Regions from separate parts of the Homo sapiens genome. Here region 1 is linked to region 2. The links come from fine-mapping of genetic effects on gene expression. Tissue or cell type: whole blood. Region 2 holds a variant in brackets; the other region holds the start of a gene. All regions are shown on one strand. Distances are from middle to middle. Region 1 holds the start of EFR3A (EFR3 homolog A). Region 2 has its middle 89 kb from the start of EFR3A.

Region 1 (15,634 bases), 86 kb before region 2:
GTAACTGTTGATTGCGAGAGCATATAAAACCCCTCAAATGGCCGGGAGCGGTGGCTCACACCTGTAATCCCAGCACTTTGGGAGGCCGAGACGGGTGGATCACGAGGTCAGGAGATTGAGACCATCCTGGCTAACACGGTGAAATCCCATCTCTACTAAAAATACAAAAAATTAGCCGGGCGTGGTGGCACATGCCTGTAGTCCCAGCTACTAGGGAGGCTGAGACAGGAGAACTGCTTGAACCCGGGATTTGGAGGTTGCAGTGAACAGAGATCTCACCACTGCACTCCAGCCTGGGCGACAGAGCGAGACTCCCTCTCAAAAAAAGAAAAAAAAAAAAACCTCAAATTCTGGCTTTCTCTTTCTCCAGCATTATCTCCTACCACCTACATAATCATTAATGTAGCCCCATGTCCCCACAAGTGGGGACAGACTGAAAGATGAGATCTGGGCAGCAAACAGGGCAGTGTCAAGCCAAAGGTCACTGCAAAAAAGAAAATTCATCAGCTACAACTCTGGCAGGACACATAGGTGGTGGGTAGAAGAAGGGAGGAAGGAGGGAGATGGGAGGGGAGGGGAGAAGGAAGCAAAGGGACAATGAGGAAAGGGGGGAAGAGGGGAAAAGGGGAGAGAAAGAATGAGAATATGAATGAACACAAAAGGCTAATAATCCAGTAATATGAAAGTGTAGGTCAAGTTTGCATGTAATGTGTCTCTAAAAGGAAAACACTTCAATCAGCAACCCTCTTTTATAATTCATTCTGCATTTCTTTCATAAAAATAAATTAAAAAATAAGTTAAATGTAATTAGCCTCATCAAAAGAAAAACAAACATGGAGTAACCATATTATTATTACAGCCTAAGAAATTTGCCTAGACCTCAACGTCAGTACCTAAATGAGAAAAGAAAGCATTCAACACACATAATTACTCAAAGTATAGTTTAACAGCAAACAATATTTGAGAGTTTTGGTTTTCCCTAGAAAATATAGAATAACTTTTCATATAAAATAAAAGAGCACATTTTACCGGACCTGTTTTGAGGCAAGTTATCTGTGAACTCAGGAGCCATTTTCACATAAGGAGTTTACTAAAAGTTTAAGTTTGTGTCTATATAAACAAGAATCTACTTAGCACACCAGTGATATCCACAGCTTTTCCAAAGATTTCTGTGACAGGATGGAAGCAAATGCATTCTTGTAAGTTCACAGAACGATTTAAATTTTTGACCAAGCTTACATTTGTCTTAATGTAACTCAAGGGGAAAAAAAGGCTAAACTATTATCAATTTAGTGCTAGAGAAAAATTAATGTTACTATGCTCACTGTGGTTACTGATTATAGGGGCCAGTTCTGTGTTCAAGTCATGGTTTTACTCCATGGAAACTCTCAGAAGGCTCAGCTTCCCGATACACAACATAAAATGATGAAGAAGCTTTAACAGTCGTTCCAACTCAAACTCCGATTCAGAGTTTGAAAATCTTTCAAATAAAACGCTTCTTAATGGTCCTTTGAATGGAGAATGAAATAAAGGCCTCTAGAAAAATGATGTGTCAAATTATAGGTTTACAGGTTTGCAACAGCATTCAGCAGCATAGTCTTGAAATCTGTGCCTAAGGATTGTTTCAGACTACAGGCTTGTAACACGACCACAAAATTGTTTCTGTGTCCTGGCAGTTTCCTGTCAGGCATCCTTCCAGGTGGTTGCTTTCTCAAAGAGTCTACGGATCTCCAAAATAATTCTAGTGAAGTGGCTGTTAATATTCATGAGATATATCATTGCTTAACCAGTGGGGTTACTGCATGCTTCACTGGATTCTAGTTATTAACAACAGTTTCAATGAGTACCAATATTCCAAATAAGCAACAAAATAGCAAGAGTAGAATAATTCTATGACTTACAGCAAGGGTTGCTCTCGGAATTGTAGAGTCTGAGAGACCACAGTGATCACCTCCAACCCTTTGATTTTAATTAAAACTCGTACGGATTAACTGGCTTGGGCTTATCACTAAGCCTCTCAACCATTTAACATTAAAACAACCAATCAAACAAAAACACTTAGCTTATCTGAGCACAGTTTTCCTCCTAAGAGCTGTGAACTTCCTCCTAAATTCCTACAGAGAATAACAATTTTGCCATCTCTGTGTTGGATATATATTCTACAAACAGAATTTCAAAGAAATATTGTTGTCCACTGCACTATCCCAGCAATTTCGGCAGCTGTGACTGCCAAAGGAGAGAAAAGGCAAATATGAACACTATTCACCTCACACTGGTACCCCCAATCAATCCACAGCACATTTTTATTCAGTCATAAAAAATGTACCATGACAAATATTAACAATGACAGATAAAACAAACATTTCACTTGTCTTCCAGTCAGGGTGTGAAATCTGCATTCTTAACTATGTAAACTCCACCATGGCCCATCCTAAAATCATTTTGCAGAATGAACTCAACATTTGAAAAGAAACGAGTTTACTATATCCACTCTGTGAAGCTAGATAACCCTAGAACATAACTAAAAATTTTATTTCACAGGATAATTCTGGCATGTTACCAATAAATTCTACTTGAAGCCTCAACTTTCAATAGGTGCTTACCTCCTCCCCTTTGGTTTCTCAGAAAATAAAAGATTAGCATAGTGCTAGTCTCAGATATTCACTGAATAACGTGAACATGAATTTAGAAGTACTAAACTGGCAATAACAATGAAGATGATTGTAAATGATATTCCTCCAGCCAAAAGGAATAAAACAGAAATTTAAACTGGACATATTTACTGGATGCGAAGTCCAAGAACGTGAGTTAAGGACACACAGTAGTGTGTGAAGAAAACAAAATCCACAGTACCCACACATGTATGAGGAGTTAAAAGTAATCTCTACATCAGGACTATGTAAAGATTTGCCACAGGAAAATCTTTAAATCTCAAAAAGATATTTAAATATCTTTAATATCAATTTAAATTTAATATCCTTAAATATCAGGAAAATATCAATCTTTATAATATCAAGAAATAACTCATCTTTTCCCACCACTAGACGAAACGTGCATTGGAGACTGACCTGGAAATTCAGCGTCCCAGATGGCTACAAAACAAGGACAACTAGAAGTAGTTATGAATTCTAGGAAATATATTCACAAGTGTGTAAAGATTCTATAGTATTGAACACTTAGTCAAAGGAGTCCTACTTGAATTCTCAAATCAATGACAAAGTTGCTTCCTCTCTACCCAAGATCAGGAGCTTCCCTAGTTTGCACATATCCACATTGACCAGTGGCTATAAAGTCACACTGCGATTATCTGGGTCATTTTAAAATAGGTCATTAGCAGTACTTGTAGTATCGCGTCTGTCTAAAAATCCTCCAACACCGAGTGACTTTTAAACTTTGGGGTGCCTTGGTAACCCCAGGGACGCTTATTAGACATGCAGACTCCGGGGCCCAAGCTCCAGACTAATTCCATGGGAATAGGGCGGGTCCCGAAACCGGCATTTTTAATCATCTGCCCGGGTGAATCCGAAGTGTGGTCCAAAAGCCACAGTCGAGGTGCCTCTGCCTAACAAGCTCCACAGAAAGCTCCGACTTCAGCCGCCCCGACGGCGATACGGACGCCGAGTTAGGCTGTCGGGGGTCTGTCTGGCGGCCGCGGGAAGGGACTCGGGGCCGGCGCGTCCACTAGCGACGTCCGGCCCGAGGTGAGAAGGGACTGACAATGGTACCGCAGTTATTTTCAATATTTCCATAAAGTCCCACGAAGCCGTGTGGCCGTGGGAAAAGGGCTTTAACTTTGAAATCCCACGGGTCAGGTTACCACCAGCTCTGCCGCCTCCTAACAGCGCGTCCCCGCAGTTCCCTTAACGTTCGGGCCTCAGTTTCCCGATCCGTGCAACGGGCTCACGCCATCTCCGGAAGGCTAAGCCGAAACGAAACTAACTCCGCCGCTCGCAGACACTTCCTGGCTCTGCTCAGCGCGGCCCAGCCTCCCCAGCCGCCCGGGAGGAGTACCCGGCCCAAGCGCGTCGCGCAGGCAGTCGCCTCCCAACGCCCCCGGCCCTCGGCCGGCCACTCACGGGTAGGCATGGCGATCTCGACCGCGCTCGCCGCCGCACCGAGGCTCAGCGGGGCCGCGCAGGGAGCGCCGACGGCACCATGACGGCCGTTGCTGGGCCGCGGAGGCCGGAACGAGGCGAAGGGCGAAGGGCGAAGGGTGGAGGGAGCGGACGCGGACCCCGCGGTCACGCAACCAAGCGGGCGACAGCTACCGCCGCCAGCCCACTCCTCGCCGGGCGGCGCGACGGACGACCCACGCCCGTTACGTCAGCGCGCCGCCGCCGTCCCGGCCCCGCCCCCGCGGATGGCCGGGCTCGGCCCAGGATCCCTTGTCGAGCGGGTGGAATGGGTGGCTGGGGACAGCCACGTAGAACAACTTCGGGTGCCTTCTATTTTCCAAGCCTGGTGACCTGCGTGGCATTCGTTTTCCTTGATCTCTATTTGGAGTGCATCACTTTACGTTTGTGAGGATGATGGCTTTGAGCGCACGGAGTACCTGTGGGCTTTTTCTTTTGCAATCGGTTTAACTTGCAGTGCGTTTTGCATACTCTGAAAGCATGGTTTATTTGAGATGCACTAAGGTCATTTGGGGTGATGGCTGCTCATTTTTTGAGAGGGCAGAAAATGTAATTTCCTTTTGCTCTTGTGACTTTCAGAGCGACCTTATCCCTCAGGAGTTAGTCTCCTCTGGAGAGGGCAGCTCTGTGCACTTGGCTGAGCTACTCTTCTTGACTCTGGGTGTCATTAATAATTGAGGTATCTAATAGTCACCAAGCTGAGCAGACACCGGGAGCCAGAGAGCTGAGCAACGCACCTACACTATGCTAGGCGCCGTGGGCTGCGGACAGCCCATATGGAGATATAAAAGCCAACCGCAGAGGTTTAACACAGCCTTCCTCAAAGTGGGTCAAAGTGGTCCAGGATCCTTTTGTGCTTGGATCCCCTGGGGACTTGTTGAAAAGCAGATTCCTAGGTGCTGAGCCAAATCTACGAACACATATACAGATGATTTAAATACAATGATAATACTGAGAACCTTTGTCCTAAAAAGTAGGGCTAACCTTCTGATTAAGAAATGATATTGTGCAGTACTGGGAGGAGAAGATGAAGAACATGAAGATCAGAGCTAGGAAGCGCTGAGGAGAAATTAGTCTTGGCTTGAGGTGGACTTGGAAGAAAGCAGAATTTGAATTAGCAAAGCCTAGGGGAGTCCTAAAAGAGGCTGGGGAGAGGATGAAGGGTAATTTAGAGTGAGTCATGGCAGCTGGGGAGAGGAGAGTGTGTACTGTACCTATAAAAGAGACTGTCCAGCTGGGAACGGTGGCTCACGCCTGTAATCCTAACACTTTGGGAGACCGAGGTGGGCGGTGGGCAGATCACCTGAGGTCAGGAGTTCGAGATCAGCCTGGCCAACATGGCGAAACCCTGTCTGTACTGAAAATGCAAAAATTAGGCGGGGGTGGTGGCACATGCCTATATTCTCACTCAGCTACTTGGGAAGCTGAGGAAGGAGAATCGCTTGAACCCAGGAGACGGAGTTTGCAGTGAGCCGAGATCGGGCCACTGGACTCTAGCCTGGGCTACAGAGCAAGACTCCATCTCAAAAAAAAAAAAAAAAAAAGAGAGACTGTCCCTTGCTAACAGTAAAGACCAAACTACCTAGTGCTTATTCATGTTTTAATGCCCTGTTGCATATTTTATCACCTATAAAATCTTTCATGCTTCCAGTTTTCTCCCTAAGACTTTGGCATTATCTTGATTCCTCTCTGCTACAGCACTTTTCTCACTGCATCCTAAATAAACTGTCATGAGTGCTTGTGTTTTACCATGGGCCTATTTGCTTTTCAGAAAATGGCAAAAGCCATATTCTGTTCATGTTTATGTATCCTTGGCTGGCACACAGGTGGGGGCCAGAGTATATTAATTCAATATATAAATAAAGGATTTTATTCAAGAGTATGAAAACAAAAACAGGTAAATAAAACTGATAAACAACTTTACATTCAACCTTGGAATTTGTCTTTTAAGAAACTGTTCTGTGATTTTTACAAAAAGCATAACAGTAACATTAAATTATCAGAAGCAGGGCCTTGCAGGGGGAATGGTGTGGCAGAGAAACTGTGGAGGTAGGCAGCCAAATCGGAAGGCCCCAATACAGGAGAGAGTGTTAGGTGCTCAGTCTTGGTGGTGGCTGTGGAAAAAGAAAGAACTGAATCTTACTTTGGAAAAGAATCCCTGGATTTGTTGGCTGCTGACTTGGGAGCAATAGAGAGGCATCTGTTAGTTATGTAACTCCAAGGTTGGAACAAGGAAAGTGGTGGTGCTGGAGAGCAGTAGACCAGTCAGGAAGAAATGCTGTTTTAGGGAAGGGGTGTGAAGAAAGGTGTGAGTTTCTCCTTGACATATTGAGCTTGAGGTGGTATCAGAGGGAGACATCCGAGTGAATGAATCTGAAGGCAGCTGGGCAAGCCAGGATGAAGGTGGGCTGAGGGACCTCAGGGTGGGAGATTTGGAAATCTTTGGTCCCGGGACAGGAGCTGAAGCTGGGTGTCAAAGAGAGCCCTTTTAGGGAAGATGTGGAGGCAGTGAAGGCACAGAGAGACGAGATCCACAGGATACAGTGCCCCAGGAGCCAAGGGAAGACATGACTCCAAAAGGCAGACATCTCTGCTTACATTACCTTGAAAAAGATGCAGATCCCAAAGGCCCTGAAATTGTCCTGCACATACTGGTTGTTTTTTTGTTTGTTTGTTTTTCATTTCTTTCTGTTTTTAATCCTCTTGGTCTTTTGGTTTTGTATTGTTGCCAGAAATAAAAATCAGCAGCCAAAGATTCTGAGGAAGGACAGCTGAATGTCAGGAAAAATAGTGTCATAATGTTTTGATTATATATACAGTACCTACGTGGTTTTTTTTTTTTCCCTAGTTTGTGCACATTGGTAGCAATGTTACCATACTCTTTCCCTAACCTATCCTCTGGATCCGAGTTCTGCCGGTGTATCCACCACAGCCAGCCCCCGCTTCCTTTTTGATTTTTTTTTTTTTTTTTGAGACAGAGTTTCACTCTGTCGCCTAGGCTGGAGTGCAGTGGTGCAATCTCACCTCACTGCAGCCTCCACCTCCTGGGTTCAAACAATTCTCCTAACTCAGCCTCCCAAGTAACTGGAACTACAGGTGCATGCCACCACGCCTGGCTAATTTTTGTAATTTTAGTAGAGACGGGGTTTTGTCATGTTGGCCAGGCTGGTCTCAAACTCCCAGCCTCAAGTGATCTGCCTGTCTCGGCCTCTCAAAGTGCTGGGATGACAGGTGTGAGCCACCACGCCCGGCCCCCTACCCCCTACTTCTGAGAGCAGAGAGTCTGCCGTCATCTTTGGTACTTGGTCTTACCCCTCTTGGTGTATCCCCTTTTGCAAACACCCTTCCCCTTTCTATCCCCTCTGTGTCAGTGCTCCTCTCTTGGAGCCCAGTCTGGGCTGACAGGAACGAGGATTTAGCCATCTCTCTTGGTGCCCACACTGCCCAGCTCTTGTCCTGGACACTATGTGTGGTAGACATGGAGACGAGTCACCAGATCCCTTTAAGAGAAGACACACTGCCTTGGCATTTGAGCCACTTTAGTGTTTGAGCTTGGTATTTGAGGTGATGCTTTTGTCAGGGTGCAGGGCAGGCAGAGTGCCCTTTCTAACATGCAAATCTAATGATACCTCTGATATGGTTTGGATATTTGTTCCCTCCAAATCTCATATTGAAATTTGATCCCCCACATTGGAGGTGGGGCCTAGGTGGAAGGTGTTTGGGTGATGGGGGTGGATCCCTTATGAACAATTTGGTGCCTTCCTTAAGGTAATGAATAAGTTCTCTGTTGGTTCCTGCAGTATCTGATTGCTAAAAATTGTCTGGCACCTCCTTTCCCTCTCTCATGCCATGTGATGCCTCCTCCCTTCCCCTTCCACCATGAGTAGAAACTCCCTGAAACCCTCACCAGAAGCAGACACTGGCACCATGCTTCTTATACAGTCTGCAGAACTGTGGGCCAAATAAAGTTCTTTTCTTTATAAATTACCCAGCCTCAGGTATTCCTTTATAGGAATGGAAATGGACTATGACCTCTCACCTGCTAACACTTGTCTATGGCTCAGTAGAGTGTTCAGTCTACAGTTCAAAGCCCTTAGCTTAGCACAGGAAGCCTTTCAAGGCCTGACATTGAGAGCTCTTCAGTTCCCCTACATTGCAACTTACGCTTTGCTTCCCCTGGTCCTAATGAGTGCACAGTTCTCAGAAACCACTCTGCTGTAGCACTCTTCCATTCTTTTGCCCATGCTCTTTGCCCTGCTGGAATGGGCTTTTCTGTCCCCTGCTCTAGCTAACTTCCAAAGTCCTTGTGAGTGTTTGGTGTAATTAAGTATGCCCTATGACCTGGAGATCATCCTTCTGGGAATATATCCTGGAAAATTTCTCACCAGGGTCCACAAGGAAGATGGATAAAAAGGTTAATTGACGTGTTGTTCATGGCAATGCGGAGTTGGAGGCCACCTAGGCGTTTGTCACTTGCAGAACATGGTGGATTCATACGTACTGTGGATGCACATCAGCAACATGGCTTGATCTTAAAAATGCAGAATTGGCCAGGCTCAGTGGCTCACGCCTGTAATCCCAGCACTTTGGGAAGCCAAGGCGGGTGGATCACTGGAGCTCAGGAGTTCGAAACCAGCCTGGCCAACATGGTGAAACTCCGTCTCTACTAAAATAACAAAAATTAGCCAGACATGGTGGTGGATACCTGTAATCCCGGCTACTTGGGAGGCTGAGGCAGGAGAATCGCTTGAACCCAGGAGGCAGAAGTTGCAGTGAGCCAAGACCGTGCCACTGCACTCCAGCCTGGGCAACAAGAGTAAAACTCCGTCTCGAAAAAAAAAAAAATGCAGAATTAAGAAGCATCAATATTTATAGCACAGTACTATTTATGTCATTTTTTAAAAAACATGCACGTAGAAAACATGGATCTCAACAATGATATATAAGGAGGTGAAGGGAAAGGGAGTGAGAATAGGGAAATAAAATTAGCAAAAAAAGGGCTTTGAACAGAAAGACGACAGTGTACAATGAAAAAGGAATGTGATTGCTGCAGTCTTTGCAACTGATTTTTTTAAAAAAGAAACAAATTATTTTCAAATATCACTAAGTACAAAAAGACCTTCCAAGACTTCTAAGTTGGCTTTAAGGTGTTTCTTTCAAGTTCCAGAGCTAATTTGCATACCTCCATCCTGTCTCTGAAGGGCCCTAGTGCTTCTTGCGGTACATAGCAGATATTGGGGACTCCCAGTAACTGTGGTGGATCCTAAGGAGGGCTGCTGAGGCCTGCATGTGCAGGTGGGATAAAGAACCAAGGTAATGTGGGCATTAACTTGTCCTTATTTATACATATAGGCTGGTCAGGACTGGGACATTTGTTACCTCATTACCTATATATTAATCATTACTAATAGTACCTGTTTATTTTGTTTAAACTCTTCAAAAGCCAATGTTGAGTTCAAATCAAGAAAGACATTCACTAGCACTTAAATAGAAGAGTACTTTCTTTTTTATGTTTTCTGGCACATTTTCAGAATACATGCCATTAAAAATAGAAGTTCTTTGTCCCTTCTTTTATTCCTTCTCAGAAAATAAGAGGTCAAAATAATATTAGAAAGGTCGTTGTTGATATCCTATTAGAGCATTGGCTTTTAGCTCAAATTGTCCAAAATAGCTCTGTTTCCAGTTTAGTGTAGTATTTGTTCCAATTTCTAAATCCTGCACTGAGAGAATTCACTTTTAATTAGCATGCATTTTAGTGCTTCAAAGGTAATTGCCAGCAAATTTACAGTTTATAGGAAATAATTAATAAGGCTATAGATTCACTCCTCCTAAAAGCTTATTCCAAAAAAGTCATAATGATGCAATCTGATGCTCTCATTGCTTAGTTTTTTTCTCACAATACATATCAATAATATGCCCTTTTTTTCATTTCATTCCATTTCATTTTACCATTGATTAATCATAACTTAAGGCTTTCCAGTTCTTATGAGGCATAAAAAACACAGACTTTAGACACAGAAAACCTGAGTTTGGATTCTGCTTTCCCCACAAAGGAATTGGAAACACTTATGAAAACATACAAAAAAGATAAGTCTTGCTAAAGTAAATTAAGATGCAGACCAGGTCTAAAGAACCCCTGAGCAGATAAAACCAGTTAGGCCTTGTGAGTGAACTAAGCCTTGCTTGATTTGCAAATGTAAGTAAAACTTAACTTGAGCTATTTCTTGTAAATGCTGAAATTCAAGAAAAAACAGAACTTAAGCTCAACCAATCAGAAGTTATCAACAAATTTATATAACTAGGGACTTTCTAACAGAATAAACCAAGTATGGGGACTGTATAATTATAATCAATCAAATATTTTATTTGCTTTACTTCTATGTCCATCCTATAGAAACCTTCCCCTGGTGTTCCCTCCGAAGATTCATGCATCGCTATTTGTGCAAATAAACTCTTTAAAATTTTATTATGCCTCAGTTTACATTTTCTTCTTCTTCTTTTTTTTTTTTTGAGATGGAGTTTCGCTCTTGTTGCCCAGGCTGGAGTACAATGGCATGATCTGGGCTCACTGCAACCTCTCCCGGGTCTAAGCAATTATCCTGCCTCAGCCTCCCAATTAGCTGGGATTACAGGCATGTGCCACCACACCCAGCTAATCTTGTATTTTTAGTAGAGACCGGGTTTCAGCATGTTGGTCAGTCTGGTTTCGAACTCCTGACCTCAGGTGATCTGCCCGCCTCGGCCTCCCAAAGTACTAGGATTACAGGCATGAGCCACCACACCCAGCCAGCTTACCCTTTAACAGCCTCTAATCCAGAAGGTCATTGCCCAAACTTTTCGGTGCCAACTAGGACACTGTGCAAGGCAGACACTCCCGATCATGTCATGAGCCAAATGTCTCAGTCATCTCTGCTTTATAAAGAGAATTGCAAATGGGTGGAGCAAAATCTTGAGATAATCAGGTTAAGAGTTCTTGATTAAATCAGACAAAACAGCTGGAAACCCTTCCTTAGAAACACTATCATTTTAAACAATTAGAGGAAAGCATTAACTCTCATTGTTATTTACTAAAATGTTAGCTAGCTTTAGCATTTAACACAGAGTGTAGGGGAGCTGCTGAAAGGAGAGAAAAAAATCTTCTAAATATGGTCTCATGCTAGGCAGTGAGTTTTTTACAAGACTTTTATGACAATTGGTATCAAATCTTATTTATTGCTGTATCTCCTGCACATGAAATATTTTATTTAATAAATATTTGAGGAAGTGTGGGAATTGGAGGAAGAGAGGGAGGGAGGAAGGGGAAAAACATAAAGGGCAAGCATCACAGAGAGGTCAGTTGAAGTATTGAAAGGAGATCTTTGTGGTAGATTAGAAAAATCGCTTAGATTTTTTTTACCTCTGGCTATATCTACACTCTTGCAGTTGATTTGGGGATACCTCCCCCGAAGAGATAATTTTTTCCTCATCTCTGAGTCTGCATTGTCCTTGTAACTTGCTTTGACCAAAGAGGCAGTGACAAACATTATGTGAGCAGAGACTTAAAAAGGGTGAAGAAGCCCAAACTTTCTATTTGAAGAGAGAGGCGCCAATCCTCCTAATCATCCCAGATGAGGCCACCATATATCAGTCAGCCCCTGCTGGTCACCCAGCTAAACAAGAATTCAAAAGTCAGCCTAGCCAAAAGCCACATAAGCACCACCCAGCTGAGACCAGCCCAAATTGTCAACACACAGGAGCACGAGCTGAAGAAATAGCTGTTACTTTAAGCCACTAAGTTTGGGAGTGGTTAGTTATGTATCCCCTAATCACTATTACTAGTTTTCACTATAACTGTTGCTAATAATCAATAGCGTATACAAGTAATCATGGGTGGTATAATTTATCAAGCTTTTAGTACGTGCCAAATACCATGCTAAGTACCTTAAGTACATTTTCTGACATAATCCTCACAAAACTGAATGGATACGCTTAAGTATACCTGTTGTTTTAGTATGAGGAAACTGAAGCATGGAGAGATTAAATAGTTTCCCCAAAGTCACCCAAGTCAGTCATGACCCAGGAATTTGAAATCAGGCCTGTCTGCCCCCCGCAAACCCAAGATCTTCACCACAGACAGTATGCAAAGTCATCTGAAGAGCAAATTAGAAGGCCCAATAGGAGATGCATACCTACAACGGGTGGATTTAGAGGCAATTATTGTCTTTTTTCCAATCTGTTTTGCAGAAAGAATGTCAAACCCTCCAGAGGAAGAATCATGCTTTCCATCTGTTTCTAATTCCTTAAAAAAATGCCAGTAGGTTTTGTATTGAGTCTCCTTTTAAAGGCTTGAAGCTGAATTACAATCACCATGTAATTGTTTGTTTTTCTCTCATTTGGGAAAAAGATAGAAATAAGAAATTGGGACTGTTGACTATTGGTTTCAAACTATAACTGTTGTTTCAAGCAAGTTCTAATTGTATCAACCTTCATCTTTCTCAGAAAATAAACTTTAAAATATTGCAATACTTGTACATTCAATACTTGTGCATTCCTATGAGAAATCTTTGTCCATACATTGTTCCATCTTGGTCTTTAATGTAGCTAGTAAATGATGAGTGGGTGGAGGATAGTTATTAAATTTGCCTCAAATAAGGCAATAGAGTTATGATTAGCTATTATTGCTACTAATTATATTTACCTTGAATCTTGAACTGGCAGGGGTAGTTGGGGGGTGGGAGCAGGAAGTAGTTAGAAGTAAATCCAGAACATTTTATACCTTTAAAGCAGAAACCCAGTTCAACCAAATCCTATTTATATCTAATGAAATAAGGGAGAGAGGTGGTAGACCTGCTTGGAAATATGGAAAAATACATCTCACAAGCAGATTGCTGAAACTAGTGTGGATAATTCTGGTTGTTGTATCTTATTGTTTTTATTAGAGAATCAGGGGCATTGTTATGTTATAGACCACTTTGAGTGGTCTATAAGTCTCTTTGTATCCTAGATTTTCAACAAAGTGTTTGTTTTAAAAGAGCAAGAATTAGGCCTAACACAGCAAAATAAATTCTCAATGTTTTTGACAAGTGCATGAATCGAACTGCCTTGCTAGATCCAGAAACATGCACTGAGGTAACAGGGAAGTGATGGAAGCATCCGAGAGCCAGTATCCTACTGTGGAGGTATCTAATGTGAGCACAAGAGATGCTCAGAGCTCAAGGAGTTAAGTTGCAAAATCAAAACACCAGATTTGCCCAATTCTAAGATGATTTTTTTTTCTCATTTAAATGTTTCTGGAATAAGAATACAACTGACATTTGATGTCAGCTGAAACTTGCCAGCTATGGAAGGAAAGGTATAAATTTCTGCTCCCTAGCACTGTAGCTGTTACTGTCTGACTCAACCATACCTAGATCCAGGCAATTGTCCCAACAGTTATTTTCACTAATGTCATCACACGTGATTGAATTTTAATGTAAATTTGAATTCAATCAAATCTAATTGTTCCTTAAATTGGTTCAAAAATACCACACTATAATGCAGCATTTAAACAAAAAGTTATTGTGTGTGCAGGCAATGAGCCTAAAGTCAGTAAAAAATGGCTCTCTCTAAATCACAGCTCTGTTTAGATTACAGGTAATAGAGCATAATAATAGATAATTTTCAAAGCTAGGCGAGTTGTTGTCACTGAATGATGCAGCAAGCAATCATTCATCACCCAGAGTTCTATGGCTAAATACTTCCAATTGGTATTGAGAGGCCAGGTGTGGTGACTCATGCCTGTAATTCCTGCACTTTGGGAGGCCGAGGCAGGCAGATCACTTGAGGTCCAGGAGTTTGAGAACAGCCTAGCCAATATGGCGAAACCGTGTCTCTACTAATAATACAAAAATTAGCTGGGCTTGGTGGTGTGTGCTTGTAATTTCAGCTACTCAGGAGGCTGAGGCATGAGAATCGCTTGAACCTGGGAGGCGGAGGTTTCAGTGAGTGGAGACTGCGCCACTGCACTCCAGCCTGGGCAATAGAGTGAGTCTCCATCTCAAAAAAAAAAAAAAAAAAAAAAAAGAAAAGAAAGGAAGAAAGAAAGAAAGATAGATTACTGGTAACCACAGAGTGAGCTTTTTTAACTGAGTAACTCATAATAAATAAATGAAACAGAAACAAGGTAGGAAGGAAAGAAGGCTATAGAAATAGAAGTTTAGCAGCAAAGTGGAAAGGAATGTAGTTTCCCAACAAAGGGAGTAGTTGATCCAAGGAAACCCTATGCACTCATAACATATGGCCAGTGGAATTTCCCACTTTGCTCTCAAACTTAGTTTTGAACTAATTGTCCAAAACCACAGTGAAGTTTGCACACTTTTAAATGGCACCACTACAGCCAGGCTTGGTAGGATGCAGAATTCTGAACATAAGGGATCATTAGACAACTCAGATAAACAAGCACAGCATGAAGAATGAGCTGTGGGGAAAGAGAAGAGAGAAAAATGTCATTGATTTCTGTTGATATGACTGTTCTCCCACCATGGAGGTAAAGTAACACAATTTTACATAACTAAGCAGGTGACAGAGCTTAGACATTTAATAAGTCAGTTCTAAAATTGTCTAATTTAATTGCAAATCTTTTAAGAGTAGTTTCTCTCCATGGTCATTTATTCCAATATTCAATAAAATTGTTCTTAATATAGTCTGGCCTGCTTTACTTGTTTTATAACAGTGCTAACAAGAAAATAAAGCATTTCTTCTAAATCATATTAAGACATATTACGTTAACAAATTTAGTATAATCTCACATAGACCAACTACAGTTTCCAACTGCTATTATAATGACACAGGCTAGTGAAAAGCAGTTTTTGATAGGATTAACTAAAAATCTTTGCAGGTTTCAATGATTCCAGCTGGAGAGTAAAGTCCAATCTGTCTAATGGAAATGTTTTAAGAAGACATGCATGCCAATTATAGAGAAACTGTAAAATGCAGAAAAGTATTTTAAAAAATACTAATTATGTCTAATTCACCTCTCCCCTAAGTCATGAATAACATTTTGCCTCTTTCCTTCTGATTTAAATACTCTTGCTTTAATGCCAGGAGAAAGTAATGTCATGAACTTCAAGGAACTGTAAATGTGGAAAAGACAACAGAATTAATATCAAACGTATTTTCATTATTATTCTATTAATATCTCCATCTCTAGCCTATAAGTTCCATGTAGGCAGCAACCTCATCTTCATTTGTTCAATATCGTTTCCGTAGCATCTGATAGCCCCTAGTGCCGGGCACATGATATAAGTTCAATTAATCTTCATTAAATACATGGTATGTGTTAGTCAGAGTTCTAAATTTCAATCAATAGAAAGCAAGTCTGACTGATTTAAGCCAAAAAGGAATTCAGGACATGATAACTGGGTAACTCATGGAGTAGTCAGGAAAGCCTGAGGTTTCAGCTCAGTGGCTATAGACAAGTTACACGAGACTGGCCTGTGCAGCATCACCGGGCTGCTGCTTGTAACATAGATACACGATTGTCG
Region 2 (16,920 bases):
CCAGGAACAATGGTAATTGTGGAGACTTAACAAAGAGTGAGTACAGCTGAAGGAGCCAGGAAGCAGAAAGTATATACGTCAGGTGTGAGGAATAAAATAGATTTTGGAAGTTATGAGAAATGTAGAGAGCGAGTTGAGTATAGTTTGTGATTTTAAGGGCCTCTAAAAGTATTAGGGCGGTGGCGGCCCCCGCACGCAGACTTGAGGGCTAGGCAAAACAGTAAGGTCAAGTTGTTTGGATAAAAAGGCTACAGGATGCAGTCCTGGTTCTTGTATAAGAATTCTGACTGCACAGCCCTGCACTTCGGCTGTGGGTAATGAAAAGAGTTGGGATGAGTCAGGGAGAGCTAGGATGGGGCAGTCTCTAAAGCTGTCTTCAAGGAATGGAAAGAGGAGTGGGGAAAGGATTTAGGATCCATGGGGTCAGCTAGGTTTCCTTTTGTGAGTTTATATAATGGTTTTGTTAGGATGGCAAAACCAGGTATCTAAAGGTGAAAGTATCTAACTATGCCTAGGAAGGAAAGGAGTTGTTGTTTTGTAGAAGGTGTTGGGGTTTGAGAGATCTGCTGGACATGATCGGCAGGGAGAGCACGTGTGTTTTTATGAGAATTATGCCAAGATAGGTAACAGATGAGGAAGAAATTTGGGCTTGACTGAAGTAATAGGGGCTGTCTGTGAAGCTTTGTGGCAGTACAGCCCAGGTAATTTGCTGGGCCTGATGGGTGTCAGGGTCAGTCCAAGTGAAAGCGAAGAGAGGCTGGGATGACGGGTGTAAAGGAATAGTAAAGAAAACATGTTTGAGATCTAGAACAGAATAAAGGGTTGTGGAGGGAGGTATCGAGGATAGGAGAGTATATGGGTTTGGCACCACGGTGTGGATAGGCAAAACAATTTGGTTGATAAGGTGCAGATCCTAAACTAATCTGTAAGACTTGTCCGGTTTTTGGACAGGTAAAATGGGGGAATTCGAAGGAGAGTTTATAGGTTTTAGAAGCCCATGCTCTAGGAGGCAAGTGATAACAGGCTTTAATCCTTTTAAAGCATGCTGTGGGATGGGATATTGGCATTGAGCGGGGTAAGGGTGATTAGGTTTTAATGAGATGGTAAGGGGTGCATCATTGTCACCAAGAAGGGAGTAGAGGTATCCGATACTTGTGGGTTAAGGTGGGGGGATACAAGAGGAGGATGCAAAGGAGGCTTTGGATTGGGAAGAAGGGTGGCAATGAGATGTGGCTGTAGTCCAGGAATAGTCAGGGAAGCAGATAATTTAGTTAAAGTGTCTCCGCCTAATAAGGGAACTGGGCTGATAATTAAAAAGGAGTGATAATTAAAAAGGAGTGCTTAAAAGAGTGTTGTCTAAGTTGGCACCAGAGTTGGAGAGTTTTAAGAGGTTTAGAAGCCTGGCTGTCAATACGTACAACAGTTATAGAGGCAATGGAAACAGGCCCTTGAAAGGAAGGTAATGTGGAGTGGGTAGCCTCCGTATTGATTAAGAAGAGGACAGACTTACCTTCCACTGTGAGAGTTACCCAGATCATCTGTGATGGTCCTGTAGGCTTTCGAGGTGATCAGGCAGTGTCAGTCTTCAGCTGCTAAGCCAAGAAGGTCTGGGAAGGAGTCAGTCAGAGCCTGGGGCCAGAGTTCTAGGGGCTCTGGGAGTGGCTGCCAGGTGAGTTGGACAGTCCGATTTTCAGTGGGGTCCAACGCAGTTGGGATACAGCTTAGGAGGAATCCCAGGCTGTGGGCATTCCTTGGCCCAGTGGCCAGATTTCTGGCACTTGTAGCAAGCTCCTGGGGGAGGAGGTTCTGGAGGAACCCCTGGCAGCTGTGGTTCAGGCTTTTGGAGTTCTTGTGTGCTGGAGACGTGGCTGGGGTTTGTCTCAATGGAGGCAAAGAATTGCAACTCAGAAATACATTGCTACTTGGCTGCCTCTACTCTATTATTGTACACCTTGAAGGCAAGGTTCATTAAGTCCTGTTGTGGGGTTTGAGGGCCAGAATTTAATTTTTGGAGCTTTATTTCATGTCGGGAGCAGATTGGGTAATAAAATAAAATGCATATTGAGAATAAGACGGCCTTCTGACCTTTCAGGGTCTAGGGCTGTAAAGCATCTCAGTGTTGCTGCCAAACGAGCCATGAACTGGGCTGGATTTTTGTATTTGATGAAAAAGAGCCTAAACGCTATCTGATTTAGGATAAAGAAAAAGGAGCATTAACCTTGACTATGCCTTTAGCTCCAGCCACCTTTTTAAGAGGAAATTGCTGGGCAGGTGGGGGAGGGCTAGTCAGGGAACAAAACTGTAAGCCAGACCAAGTGTGAGGAGGGGAGGTGATAAAAGGACTATAGGGTGGAGGAGCAGAGGCTGAGGAAGAATCGGGACCTAGCTCAGCCTGGCAAGGAGGGGAGAGGTCAGATGGGTCTGTAGAAAAGGAAGATTAGAAAGACTCAGCGACGCTTGGGGTTGGGACTGAGGGGACAGGCGGGAGGGAAAGATGGAAGATTTGGGACTAGTTGCATTGGGAACAGAGACTAGGGAGGGACCAATGTGTAAAAGAATGCCTGGATGTCAGGCACCTCAGACCACTTGCCCATTTTACGACAAGAATTATTTAGATCTTGTAGGATGGAAAAATTGAAAATGCCATTTTCTGGCTATTTGGAACTACTGTCGAGTTTGTATTGGGGTCAAGCGGCATTGTAGAAGAAAATAAGGCATTTAGGTTTTAGGTCAGGTGTGAGTTGAAGAGGTTTTATGTTTTTAAGAACACAAGCTAAGGGAGAAGAAGGGGGAATGGAGGTCGGAAGCTTGCCCATAGTGTAAAGGAAAATTACAGTCAAAGGGAGTTGTTCTCTGGTGGGCAGGTGTTGGGTCACAAGGTGCTCAGCAGGGGAGCTTTTGAGCCAGGATGAGCCAGGAGAAGGAATTTCACAAGATAATGTCATAAGTTAAGGCAGGAACAGGCCATTTTCATTTCTTTTGTGGTGGAATGTCATCAGTTAAGGCAGGAACTGGCCATCTGGATGTGTATGTGCAGGTCACAGGAGATATGATGGCTTAGCTTGGGCTCAGAGGCCTAACAGTAACTACTTTTGTTCATCCACTTATTCATTTATTCAATCACAAACATTTATTGACAATACTTTGTGTTCTGTTTGGAACCATGCGAGGAATAGGGGTTATTGGGTCTGATGCAGTGTGTCTCTACCTTAACACTATTGACATTTAGGCTGGATAACTCTTTGCTGTGAGGAGCTAGTCTGTGAATTGAAGGGTGTTTGGCAGCATCTCTGGTCTCTACTTACTGGGTGCTAGAAGCAGCACCTAGTCGTCTCAACCAAAAATATCTTTGACATCACTGAATATCTCCTGGGGGTCAAAATTGCCCCCAGTTGAGGATCACAGATCTAATGTATAAAACATTGCTTCTGACATCAACATTAAACAGAAGTCAGTAAAACTGATAACCACAACAACAATTAAAATGGATGAAACACCTCCATTTGGTCAGGTTTTTGCCAGGTACACAATCTTATTCAATGCTTACAACAACTGTATGCTATAAGAGTAAATATTTATTTATGGATCTCTAAAGGTTTATAATGGGTAAGTCTATATTTCCATATGTGTTAATTATAACCTTCTAAAAGCAAGAATCAATATTTAAAATGTTTGAAGGGGAATGAGGGCACCTACATTTTAAGTGATAGCACAAGCTAAAATTAAAAGCCTAGTTTTAAAGAAGTGTTAGATTATTTTATATAGTAGAAATGATAAAGCAAAAAACTCTCGTATGATAATACGTGGCTAAGGTTTTTCCTTTTTTGTGCTTTAGTTTATATTGGCTACATTTTTCACTGTATGCATTGTGTGTTTCTTTTTAATAGTTTTTTTTCTGAACACACATTTATGTTAATGTTTTTATTGAATAACACTTACATTGTACCTTTCTTATCACTGATACAATAAACATAACAGGATTTTGGGGGACTTCAGAACAGTAATTAATACTTGAGTTTCAGAGTACAAAGTCACCTTAGTAGGCATCAAATCCAAACTACCCAGTTTATGGATGAAAAATACAAAGCTAACATTGGGGAATTGAATTGCTCTAGGTTAGAGGGTTTGCAAACTATGGCCTATGAGCCAAATTTGGCTTGTCACTTGTTTTTGCAAATAAAGTTTTATTGGAATACAACAAAGCTCATTTGTTTACATATTATCCATGGCTGCTTTCAAAGTACAACAGAGTAGATTAGTTGCAACAGAAACTATATGTCCTTCAAAGCCTAAAATATTCACTATCTGTCCCTTTACAGAAAATGTTTGTCTAGGTCATATCAAAAACTAGGGCTGGTGGAGGACTTTGAGTTGATGTGTCTCTTACTGGACAGCAGCATGGTGGAGCAGAAAATCCCTGGGCTCTAGAATCAGACAAGGTTTTGAATCTTGTCTCTGTCATCCACAAGCTGTGTGGCCTTGAACATGATCCCTTTGAGTCTCATTTCCTATTGAGTAAAATTGGGATGAACACAGTCTGCAATTTTGTTATGTGGTTTATAAAAAGTTGATAATGTCTCTGATGTGTACTCAAAATAGATGATATTAAAATACAATGCCCTTTCAACTGAATAACTGCAGCTTTTACTCATTTACTCAATAAATATTTAGCAAAAGACCATTGAAGGTACCTTAATAGGGACTGAGGGTACAAGAAAGGTAATGACAGACATGGCCTCTAAATTTCATTTCAGCCAAGTAGAGAGTAGGTATGAGAGGGACCTAACCCAGACCTTACTCAGACATGGTTTACTGAAGGAGAGTACATTTAATTCAAGACCTTAAGCAAGCATAGGAATTAACAAGTAGAAGAAGATGGAAGTCGGGTAAGGAATGTTTCAGGCAAAGGAAAGGACAAGAGTAAAAGTCCTAAGATTAGTAAGTCATTGTACACTGAAAGAACTACAGAAAAAAAGGTCAGTAAAGTTTGCGTGGGAGTTCAATGTTGGGAGAAAGTGGGGAGAGATATGGTTGGGAAGGTGAACATGATGCAGATTCTAAAAGGCCAATGGAGCACGTAGCGTTAGTTGCCTACCCAACAGTCACAACCCCCTTTCTCAATAACAAAATCATGATTTTGTACACCTGGCAAAATGCCCACCTTAGGGAAGGCAGCAGATGTATCAGTGATTGGTCTGAGGTGAGCTAGTGATTGGGATATGGCCAATGGAAGAATTTTGAGGTCTTTAAAAAAAAGTTTTCCAATCCAAAAATAGGAGAGTCAGGTAAGGTGGCTCATGCCTGTAATCCCAGCACTTTGGGAGGCTGAGGCAGGTGGATCACCTGAGGTCAGGAGTTGAAGACTAGCCTGGCCAACATGGTGAAACCCCATCTCTACAAAAATTAGCCTCCCTGATGGCAGGTGCCTATAATCCCAGCTACTCGGGAGGTTGAGGAGGGAGAATCACTTGAACCCGGGAGGCGGAGGTTGCAGTGAGCCGAGATTGCACCACTGCACTTCAGCCTGGGCGATACAGCAAGACTCTGTCTCAAAAACTTAAAACAAAAAACAAAAACAAAAACAAAACCCAACAACAACGACCAAAAATAAAAATAGGAGAAAGCACTTTTCCTCCCTTTTCTCTCCGCTTTGGCTGCAGTCAAGTGAGACTGTGATGCCTGGAACTGTTGTAGCCTTTTGCCCTCATAATGAAAGTGAACAGGCTGAAGATAGAGAGAAGAAATGCATACAGATAGAATTCCAGGGATGATTTGTTGAGTTCCATGTTGTCATTCCAGGGCTAACTGTGGCTGTACACACCAGTGAACTTCCTATTACAGAAAGTAGGGCAAGATCAAAAAGGGCTCAAGTGCCAGGGTCAAGTGACATCCAAGAGGAAAAGCAAATGTAACAAAAGCTTTAGTCGCTAGTATCATCTCTCCTGCCGATGACAGAGTACCAAATGGATTAGATGATTAAATGGACTAGATGATGATTAATGGATTAACTGCAAATAACTGAGCTCCAAGTGACCCTTTGTAAGAAATAGCTAGCCTTCAGTGGAGGCCTCAATTTCCTCATCTGTAAAACAGGGGTGATAACAGAACCATCTAAATGGCTTGCTGTAACGATAAAATAGTATATAGATTTGGAGCCCCAGCATGGAGCCTAGTTCCTAGGAAGTGTTCACAATGGTAGGTGAAGATTATTATTCTTTCATCATTTTCTGTAAACTCATATGTCTTGAATGATTTTGACATTCTTAAAGAGTACCCCATGCTGGCATGAATCAGAACTTGCATGGACATTGCATAGAGGATTGAATGAGATATTCTTCAAAGCAGCTTTTTTTTTTTCAACCAAACCACATGTGGTGATTAATAGCATGTTGAGAAATTAACTTACTGTCAAGTAGTAAAGAAGAGAATGGATCAGAATAGGCAATATTGGACTGCATCCCCTGTGGTAAGGATAACAATTGTTTTATGAAAGTTTTTTGTTTATGTATTTATACATGTGTGTTAGCTTGTAATTGTAAAATGTACTTCTGATTGTGGAATGAGTTAAAAAATCTGTTTTGAAAAAGAATGCTCTAAGGTTTCTTGCAACTCCAGCTTCTGTGGTTGTTCTCAGATCGTGCGGCTCATTTCAGCATTCATGTTGCATAACAGTGCTACCTGCTGACTCATGGTCAGCAGGCAGTGGCCTGGTTGACTGGGGTTTTCTCTTCACCACCGCTCTGTGTTTTCTTTAGCAGCCCTGTTTCATTATTACAGAGAGCTAAGGAAAGTGAGTATCTTCCATAAAGGGAACTCATTACCCATTAAATTAAAATGGAAACTAAACAGGTATCTTGAGAGGTCTCGGGTGGGCTTTTCAGCCCAGTCCACAGGACAGTGGAGTCATAGCCTAGAAGGTAAATGGCCCATATCCTATGAACAGAGTTACTTTGCAGGTTTTGCAGTTATAGGATGGATTTCTCCATAGGCATAATGAGTCCCTCTCATTTCCTCTTTTAATTGCAGCCTGTACTATTGATGTTGGGGACTGTGAACTGGGAATTTGGGCAGCAGATTTTCAATGGAAAAAAAAACCAACTTTTATTTGACCTTTTCTTTTTTCTGGTCACTTAAGAAGAAAAGAGAACTGAGAAAAATATGTAAAATGTATATATATAGATACGTGGAGATATTTATGTAGCACCTGCTCTATTTTCGAACCGTCCCATTGCCTACAATAGATGATTGCCTAAGTGCTATAAGTGGTGCTGCGGAGGAAGACAGGATTAGAATCAGACACTTTGTTTTAGAGTTCCTACTCTGTTCACTACTTGTGTGAACTTGGACAAATCACTGACTTATTCTGAGCTTTGTTCAGTAATAAAAGCTGCATTTTCGGGACTACCTGCCACGTGTCAGGCACATTACAGATGTCAATTCTAAACCTGAAAGCAACCGTGAGAGGTAGTTGAATATATTAAGTGACAGTTTAGGGCTATGTGGCCAGTCAGAACCAGAATCTAGAGTTGAATGTAAATCTCCTTGGTTCTGAAGCCCACAGATTTTCCATTATATTTCTCTGTTTACCTTAAAATGGAAATTAAGATAAAAATGCGTGTCAACTCCCAAGGTTGTCTTAAGGTGAAAACTAGCTAAAGTAAATGTAAAATTTTGATCACTGTTAGTTACTGTGATTATGGCCATTATTATTTTTAGGAGCACGAATAAACCTATATATGCTTATTGTTACAGAACCTCTTATTATACGCATACTTTTATTAATGTTTATTTATGTGCTGTTTCCTGCCCTAGACTTTGAGAGTCTTGAAAGAAGGAATCCTGGCTTATTTGATTGTGTATTGTTAGTAACTTACACAATGTTTAGCATATAGTTAAGTGCTCAATATTTGGTCTACTGCAATGAAAATATGTATAATTTCCACTCTACAGAACATTTCTATATTTAGAGCCATATCTGTGTTTTCAGAATTCATCTTTCAAATTGCAAAAAGTTAAAAAGGGGTTGGGAAAATATGTATCAACATATTGATAGAGATTATAGATAAGTTATCTTCTTTCTTTTTCTTAGATTTTGTAATTTTGTTTCATAATTGTCTTTTAAAAATATTTTCTAATTTTCCTTAATATACATATTTTATTTATGTAATTAATATTTTTGGTTGTTTTAAAACAAATTCACTAGAAGGAGTAAGATATTGATTCACTGAAAATGAGATACATTAAGACCATTATTTTATCAGATAAGTTTTGAGGTCCTGAAATTTGAAAGGGATGGAATAGAAGGTAAACAAAGGAGAAGGTTTGCAACTTGTGTCTGCGTTGGGACAAGGAAGGGAAATTTCCTAGGCTGCCAGACTTCTGTATGAATCATAGAATTTCATTTGTAGGGGGTGGTTGAAGTTAACTCATGACACTACCTCAAGAAATTCTTTTCATGGTCTCTGACGGATAGTTGTATATCTTCTAAGTTAGTATTCCTAGGGATAAAAATACCAGCTACCATGCAGAAAATCCTATTTCATTGTTAGTAAGGAAAGATTGTGACAATGCTCCACAAGTAGAGTTAAACATTGCCTTTCTGAAGTCTTGACTGTTGGTCCCACATAGGCCCTTCAGTGGCAAAAAATATACAGAATATTATTTCCACTTCCCTGGGTCTTAGCTACACCCCACTGAACACATC[C/T]TGTCTGTTAACCACTCCAGATATGCTGGCTCATAGCTCTTTCACCATTTTGGTTGCCGATTTCTACACAGAGGCTTTATGGGGATGACGAAGGGATAGGCTTTGGAGGCGCACAGATCCAAGTTCTAATCTGTGCTACATTCCCTATGAGCTGTGTTAAAGCAATAGTAAAAAGTACAATAATAATAACAGATAAAGATGATGGTAATGACAACAGCTGACATTTTTGGGTGCTTTCTATGAACTAGTTACTGATCAATGAGCTTAAAAATATGTTATTTTTAACTGACAAATAATAATTGAGGTAGCCATAGTCCCATGTACACTGTAGCATTATTCACAACAGGCAAGATAGGGAAGCAACATAAGTGTCCATCAAGTGATCAACTGATAAAGAAAATGTGATATAAAAACACAATGAAACACTATACAGCCTTCAAAAAGAAGGAAATCTTATGACTTGTGACAACATGGGTGAACCTAGAGGACATTATGCTAAGTGAAATAAGCAATGGGCTTTAAATGCAAAATCTCATTTCATTCTCAAACTCTGAAAATATGGGGATAGCAGCAGTAACCCATATGGAGTTGGGATGTGGTTTAAATAATATAATGCATATGAAGTGCTTAGAATATGAGTACTAGAATATAATGAGCACTTCATAACTATATAATAATAACAATAACCATGGCACCCACAACAGGCCATTATACCCTAAATGGGGTAACTTCTGCAGAGTGCAGGGGGATGGCAGCTCTCCTATCTGTACAGCATAGTAGTATTCATTGGTGAGAATGGGAATGGAAAATAATTGACAGTAAGTGGGGCAGAGGGGGAAATAAAAGACCAGAGTTATGTTTCCAGATCAAGTTGATCTGTGTAGCCATTTTGTCTGGAGCCAAGGATCTGAAATTGACTATTTCAATTAGTGACTACATTTTAAATTGTTTTTTTTTTCAGGATCATATTCTGGGTGCTGGTGTATGTGTAGGAGGGTCCTCAAAATGTCTTCTGGTAGTATGATTAAGGATTAAGAGCATAAACTCTGTGGAATACTATACAGCCATAAAAAAGAATAAAATCATTTTGCAGCATCATGGGTGGAACCGGAGGCCATTATCCCAAGAGAAATAACTCAGAAACAGAAAATCAAATGCTACATGTTTCCACTTATAAGTGAGAGCTGAGCAATGTGTACACGTGGGCCTACAGAGGGAAATAGTAGTCACTGGGAACTCCAAAAGGGGGAAGGTTGGGAAAAAAGAATATATAGAATATTATTTCTGTACATTATAATATTTCTGTATACTGTAATATTATTATTTCTGTATACTGAGCTTGGGTACAATGCTCACTATTCAGATGGTGGGTACACTAGAAGACCAAACCTCACCATTATGCAATATAGCCATGTAGCAACCATGCACATGTAACTCATAAATCTAGTAAACAGTGAAAAGGAGTATAAGCTCTAGGGTCAAATTACCTCTGTTCAAAACCTGCCTCCAGAGTGTACCACCAGTTCGTCCATCTGGCCAGCTTTCTTAACCTCTCTGTGCCTTAGTTTCCTCATCTATAAAATGGTGATAATAATCCTATGGGCCTTACTCAGTTATTTTGAAGCTTTAATGAGTATTAATAGGTATAAAAATCCCAGAACACAGCATGAAAAATGTTGGGTATTTTTACTTTCTTGTGGAATAAGGAAGAGATAAGATCAGAATTATTCTTCCTTCCTGGACCAGCTAGCTCTTTGAAGGAAGCCTCAGCATCTCACACACACACACACACACACACACACACACACACACACACACCCTCCAGTCTCTAAGCTCTAGAACAGAGATTTCCTTTGAAGGTGTCATGTCCAAACTATCCTTGGCCTTGCTGCGCGGCAGGACCGTTCATTATGAAATCGCCTCTCACTGCAGGAAATCTGAATGCGGCAATATTGAAATGCCTGTGTGAGAAAGAACATAAAGTGGAGGTGCGAGGCAGAGCCCCAGTGAAAATCCACAGGCTGGCGCATAAGCAGAATGCAGCCCTTTCGTCTATCTTATTAAGAAATGTTTCACAGACAGCCTGGATTAGATTAGTGGAAATGTTAATTTATCTTCTAATGCTATAGTCTGATTCTCTCTGTGTGTGAAAGATATGTTTTGCTTAAATCTATTTTTTAATAAATCCTTACGATATTGTTCAAGGTAATTGATGGTGGAGGTATAGGACATTTCTCAGTAATACACAAACAAAGCCAAACTCAAATCATGTAAATTGCTTCATTCGTAGGGATAAAACTAAATTGCTTGGCAAGGCAGGGAGTCAGAGAAAACAGAAAAGATCCAGAGGGAGCAGTGGAGGAATGATGACTGCGTTTTTCTTATTATTTCTGCATCTGTCAAAATGGAATGTGCCCCCCTCCTATTTTATATTCTTAACTCTATATACAAGACAATCAATGGTGTTATAAATAAGTCTGTTTTTGTTATGGGTATGAGACTGCCCAGGAAATGGAATAGAAAATTACTTTCTAGTCTAGCCTCAAAATCAATTTTTTCCAAATTATTTTTCTTACAACACTTCTATTTGTCTCTTGGAATTTTTTTTTTCATTTGCTCTCACCCCTCCCTCTGTTAAGGTGCTCCGCTTTGTCCTTTTGTGCTTATAATCTGTATTATAAAATCAAGCCTATAAGTATGCATTGTTATTTTTCTCATCTAGACTGTAAGATTCTAGAAGGCAGGGCCATTTCTTATACTTCTCTCTGCCCTCTGGAATGTAGTACAATGTCAGCAACCTGATAGTCATGTAGGAGAATAAGGATCTCACACTTTGCAAAACGCTATCACACAGCAACGCTGCACTGAGGCCCTATTATGTGTCTGACAGTGAGCTAAGTGCTTTCTGTCATTCATTCTTCACCCATAGTGATTGCCCTCGTTGTCATGCGGGGAGGTTCCTTTTACTCTTCTCATCCCAACCCAACTGTCCTTGAGCCAAGGCTGACCCGTTTAGGGAAAGAGAGTGCCTTAATCCATTTGGAGTGCTAGAACAGAATACTATAGACTGGGTGGCTTACAAACAACAGAGATTTGTTCCTTGCAGTCTTGAAGGCTGGAAGTCCAAGATCAAGGTGCAGGCAGATTTGGGTTATCTGGTGAGGGCCTGATTCCTGATTTATAGGCAACTGTTTTTTTTTTTTTTTTTTTTTTTTTTTTTTCTGTGTCCTCACATGGTAGAAGGAGCAAAGGCATTCTCTGGGAACTCTTTTATCAGGGCACTAATGCTGTTGATGAGGACTCTACCGTCATGACCCAGTCACCTCCCAAAGGCCCTGTGTCCAAATACCATTACAATGGGGATTCGATTTCAGCAGATGAATTTGGGGTGGGGACATAAACATTCAGTCTATTGCATACAGTAATCAAAGCTGAGCCAGTCGGATGCTTCCTTGTAGAAATGTGAAACTGGAGTGGAACAAATGTCCCGTGGTATTGCCCTAGAAAGAAAGTTTCACAGGCTTCACCAGCCAAAGTTCCCTTTCCAACCTGGACAGGAGATTGCCTTAGACTATGTGAGTTGCTTCAATTTTCCAAAAACCTCAACTCCAATTATCGGGAATTGTTTGATATACAGTGTTAAATGATTTGCCTCCAATCCTCTGGCTAATGAGTAGAAGAAGTTTCATAGACCCCAAAGCTCTTAATCTTTACTATCACACACAGGGAACTTCTTATTTCAATCTCACAATAGTCTCATAAAGTAGAAATGCTACTCATCTTCACTTTGCATTGTGAAATACAGAAGCTCAGAGAGCTCACCAAGTTTAACATCCCAGGTGATAGGTGATGGAACTGATCTTGAACTGACTTCTAGCTTCTCACAGAGTCAGCTTTGGAAGGGATTTATTGAATCTCCACTATGTTCCAGGCTCTTTCAAAAGAATTTTTACAAACGAGTTCAGAATTACTTTCTACAGAAACTATTTGTTCCGTGGAGATCAATTCCATACTCAAACCCTTCCAAGGGAAGCTGAACCATCGTCTTCCCCCACCCTGCTTTCTTGGAGGTCAGATCAAGGTAGCTAGGACTCAGTGATGTGACTTTGAATAGAAAAGTTAACTGGGTCAATGTCGTTCCTGCCACCAGGAATTTGAAACTGGAAGCTAGAAACAGAAGCTGAGACGTATGGGTGAGGATATGAAGAAGGGGCAGTGAGGTCATGTTAGTTCTGTGCAGGCTTAGGTGATAAGGGAAGAGAAACCAGGGATAGGCACGTGAAGCCTTATGTCAGAGAGAGGAGAATGGAATCCTTGTGCAGAAAGAAGCAGAGAAAGAGAGGCACGGAGATACACACAGACATAGTCACATATGCATACACACACACAAGCCTGTCTAAAGTAGCCAACAGCCAGCTTAGCAAGGGTATGATGAACTAGAACAGAGCTCCTAAATGGGAGGACTGGTACCTGAGCAGGACCTCAGTACCTGCGCCACCTGACATTACTCCAGCTGTTATGTAGGAAAATCTGAAAGTCAATGAAGACCCCAGCAGAAAGATAGAGCAGTTGGGGCTAAGAACCTGAGGTGGGATGGAACTTATTTATCAACTAGTTTGAGAGTTTTTCAATATTTAACAGCTTGTATGTTTTCACTGGCAGAATATCAGGTCCATAAACATCTTCCCCTCCCTGCATACTACTTCACAGTGTGGCCCTCGAGAGAGAGTGTAAAAAAGTAGTTGATCTCTAGAGCTGTTTCCATCCCTGATAATGTTTTACTTCAAAGTCCCAGTTGTGTCCCATGCAAATTCTTATATTTATATATATCAAATGCTGCTTATTCCCTGTGTTTAAAGTCTGGCCACCTTAAAAAGTAAAATAAATAAATAAATAACCTGAAATGATAAGAGCTTATAAGGGGGATTTAATCATGGGTCTTGGGACTCCAGGATTCTTTCTGTAAAACCATGGTTATCTCAATGTGGAGCAAAGTCTGGAACAAGAGAATTAAGTGGTACCATTTGTAATAAGAATCACAATCAGTGCACTGAACTGAAGCCCTCTGTTTTACTCCTCAAATTCTCTCTCAGAGACCTGATTGGTTCTTAACAGTTTGTAGGGAGCTCAGCTACTGCATCCACAAATTGTGTCAGCAAGCATAATGAAATATTTTGAATTGCATTATAAACATTTCATGTGTGTAACCTTTAGTTCTCTGGAACATTTAGAATTTGGTTCAACCTGGACCCATATGCATTTGTTGTTTTTTTTGAGAATCACTATATGGAGACTGTTCTAAACTCTGGAGAGACTTAGGCTCTGGAGAGACTAAGCAGGCAGGTACCCATCCTGGAGATGTTCACAGCCCAGGAAAGGAAGTCAAGGAGGTGGAGGAAGAAAAACAACAACAAAAAAATTGACTAAGTATATTATCATTTAATCCATTCATGAAACACATATATGCAAAATGATGTGTTTTAAGAATTTTATTTCATTTTTCAGATGAAGTCTCACTCTGTCACCCTGGCCAGAGTGCAGTGGCATGATCCTGGCTCATTGTAGCCTCTACTTCCTGGGCTCAAGCAATTCTTGTGCCTGAGCCTCCCGACTGGCTGGGACTACAGGCGTGCGCCACCATGCCTGGCTACTTTTTGTGTTTGTAGTAAAGACAGGGTTTCACCATGTTGGCCAGGCTGGTCTTGAACTCCCAACTTGGGGTGATTCACCTGCCTCCACCTCCCAAAGTGCTGGGAGTACAGATGTGAGCCACCGTGCCCGGCCTGTGCTTTAAGAATTTTAGAATAGTTGCCCATTGGGAAGGTGGTCTGAGGAATATGAGTAGGTATGGAAATAAAGGGAATAATTAAATATATTAAGCAATTTTTAGAAAACGAGAAAAAGAAATATATATATTAATGAAAAACAAGCTATTTCACTCAAATTGCAGTTTATGAGCAAAAGCAACAGAATAGCATTTAGTCTTCCAATTGCACAAAGCTTGTAACTTTCAGGACTAAATCTGAGGGAGCTAAATTCAGCACTGATGCCCGGACATGGAAGCAGGGAAAGAGGGCCAGGGCAGCAGCAGAAATGAATGGGAACATGGACCCAGCTGTGCCCTGCTCCTACTGGCTAAGGAGATAGGTTGATCAACCCATGAGGGCAGACCAGCAGCCAGTTGATACCACATTCACATGGCATTGATGTCTGTAAGTTATTTGCAATTTATTGAGCATATTCAGTACGTTCAGGCTTACGGTTACAACTCGCCCTATAAGCAAATTAGTTTATAGTGGTTTCTTTATGTGACCATGAGCTTAAACTTCTTTGGTGTCAACTGATGCTGAGATCAATTCCATACAGCATATCAGGGGACCCTGTTCAGATATCTCATGATGAGCCGGGACTCAAAATGAGTGGCAGAAAGGAATGAATATATGTTGAGTGTGTACTCCACACCATCTCATTTATTCGTTAGAGTATAGCAAAGTATTACTGTTCTCATTTTCACACAGGAGACTTAAGACTTGCAAAGATGAGTTCACTTGCCCAAACCATAAAGTTCATTAGCAATGATTCCAGGATGTGAACAGAATCATATCTAACTTCACAACTCATGCCCTTCAACTAAACCCCACAGGAGATCTACCAGTGCCCACCTTGTACAACTTATATTCCCAGAATATTTGTTCACCAGTATTATGATCTCTTCATTAATTTCAGTGCATCCTGGACTATAGCTATACTTCAGATATAGCTATGGAGAATTTTTATATATTTCTTTGAGTCACTGCTTCTCAAACACAGCTCCCTCACTCTTGCAGCTGTGGCTTTGTTTAGGTAACGAGCCTGGTCACCATTTCCTCATCACTTATTTCTCTCTACTCATTTAAATCTTCAAAACTCAAATCATGGTCTCATGTGCTTTCCTTATGACTGCCCCATGACCTCAAGCCTTCCTGCATCCTTTGCACCGGTTGGTAGTCCCAAGCATATATTTTTGCAACTAATTATGTCCTGCTTCAAAATATCCCCTAATTATTTACACTTGTAAGTTTCATCTGTTCAACTACATACATATGGATTCTGTGATATCCTTGTTGATTGCTCTTTAACAAATCCTAAGATAGTCCGGGATGTGGTTAAGAACATCATCTTTCTCTACCCTGCTTCTGCTTCTCTTTATCTCAGTGCATGGCACTCCCAAACTCTGGTTGCCAAAGTAACAGCCAGAAGTCACCCTGGAGCCCTCCCGTTTCCACGTGGGCCCACATTTAATCAGTTGCCAAGCCCCATCAGTTCTACCATCCTAGTACCTTTTATCCTTACTGCTGTTACTTAGATTTAGGTCACCATCATCGCTCACTGGACTGATGCAACAGCCTTCTAACTGGTTTTCCAGTTAGAAGAGAGCTATCTTGCTCTCTCCAATGTGTGGTTCATACTGCAGACAAATTGATATGTTTTATTTTTATAAAATGGAGATTTGATAATGTGTCTCCACCATTGGCTCCCATTGCCTTGGGATCACTGTCCTTAGAAGATCATTACCTTAAGGGATTTTCAGTGATGAAGATCACGAAGACCAGAAGGGAAGAGGCGGGAAACTTGCTGCCCAGGCTCCTAGGTCAAATGAGAATAGGCAAAGAAGACCTGCAGGTAACTGATTTTTAGTTCAGCTGGCATGTAGGAAGACCTCAGATACTGAAGGCAGAAGCTGCTTTCAGATGCAGTGGGTACATTTGGTAGGAGCTTCTGGGGTCCTCCCCTGGGGAAGTGAATGCAAGAGAAAAAGCATAAAAATACAAGGGTTTCCCTCAGACACCCTCACCTGGGCTGGCTTCATACTTTGCACTTGCTGTCCTTTCTGCCTTGGATTCCTTTTCCTCAACTAATTGCAGTATTGCATTCTCATTTCCTTATGAGAGACTATTTCTGACCATCTTATGTGACATAACCAACCTCTCCAACATGAAACTCCCCATGCCTTTTGCCCTGCTTTGCTTTCTTGCCCTACATTTATTCACTGTTTGTCATTCCATATATTTATTTGTCATATCCCTTATTCTAGAATGGTCTGGAAGCTCCTACTCTGTGCTTTCAAATTTATCCTGTATTGTAAATGCTTGTTAATTTTCTGTCCCTCCCCATCACTCTAGACTATGAGCTCTTAAGGGCAGGAACTTTACTTCTATAAAGGATATATTTCACTG

What was found. PIP is the estimated chance that this variant, and not a neighbour inherited with it, causes the effect.
Region 1: EFR3A starts here. The variant in region 2 is fine-mapped to the expression of EFR3A in whole blood (TOPMed, PIP above 0.99).

Annotation. Positions count from the first base shown.
Region 1 is chr8:131,892,765-131,908,398 of GRCh38, reverse strand. EFR3A (EFR3 homolog A) reads right to left here and starts at 4,306. Exons shown (of 23, transcript NM_015137.6): 1 at 4,077-4,306. The coding sequence starts at 4,086. RefSeq lists an enhancer at 3,310-3,359 and a silencer at 3,930-4,409.
Region 2 is chr8:131,806,317-131,823,236 of GRCh38, reverse strand. No RefSeq gene overlaps it. Among named protein-coding and RNA genes, the nearest start is that of EFR3A, 89 kb to the left of the region's middle. RefSeq lists enhancers at 2,667-3,168, 6,544-6,693, 6,824-6,953, 11,346-11,866. The variant C/T (reference allele first, on the strand shown) is at 8,705.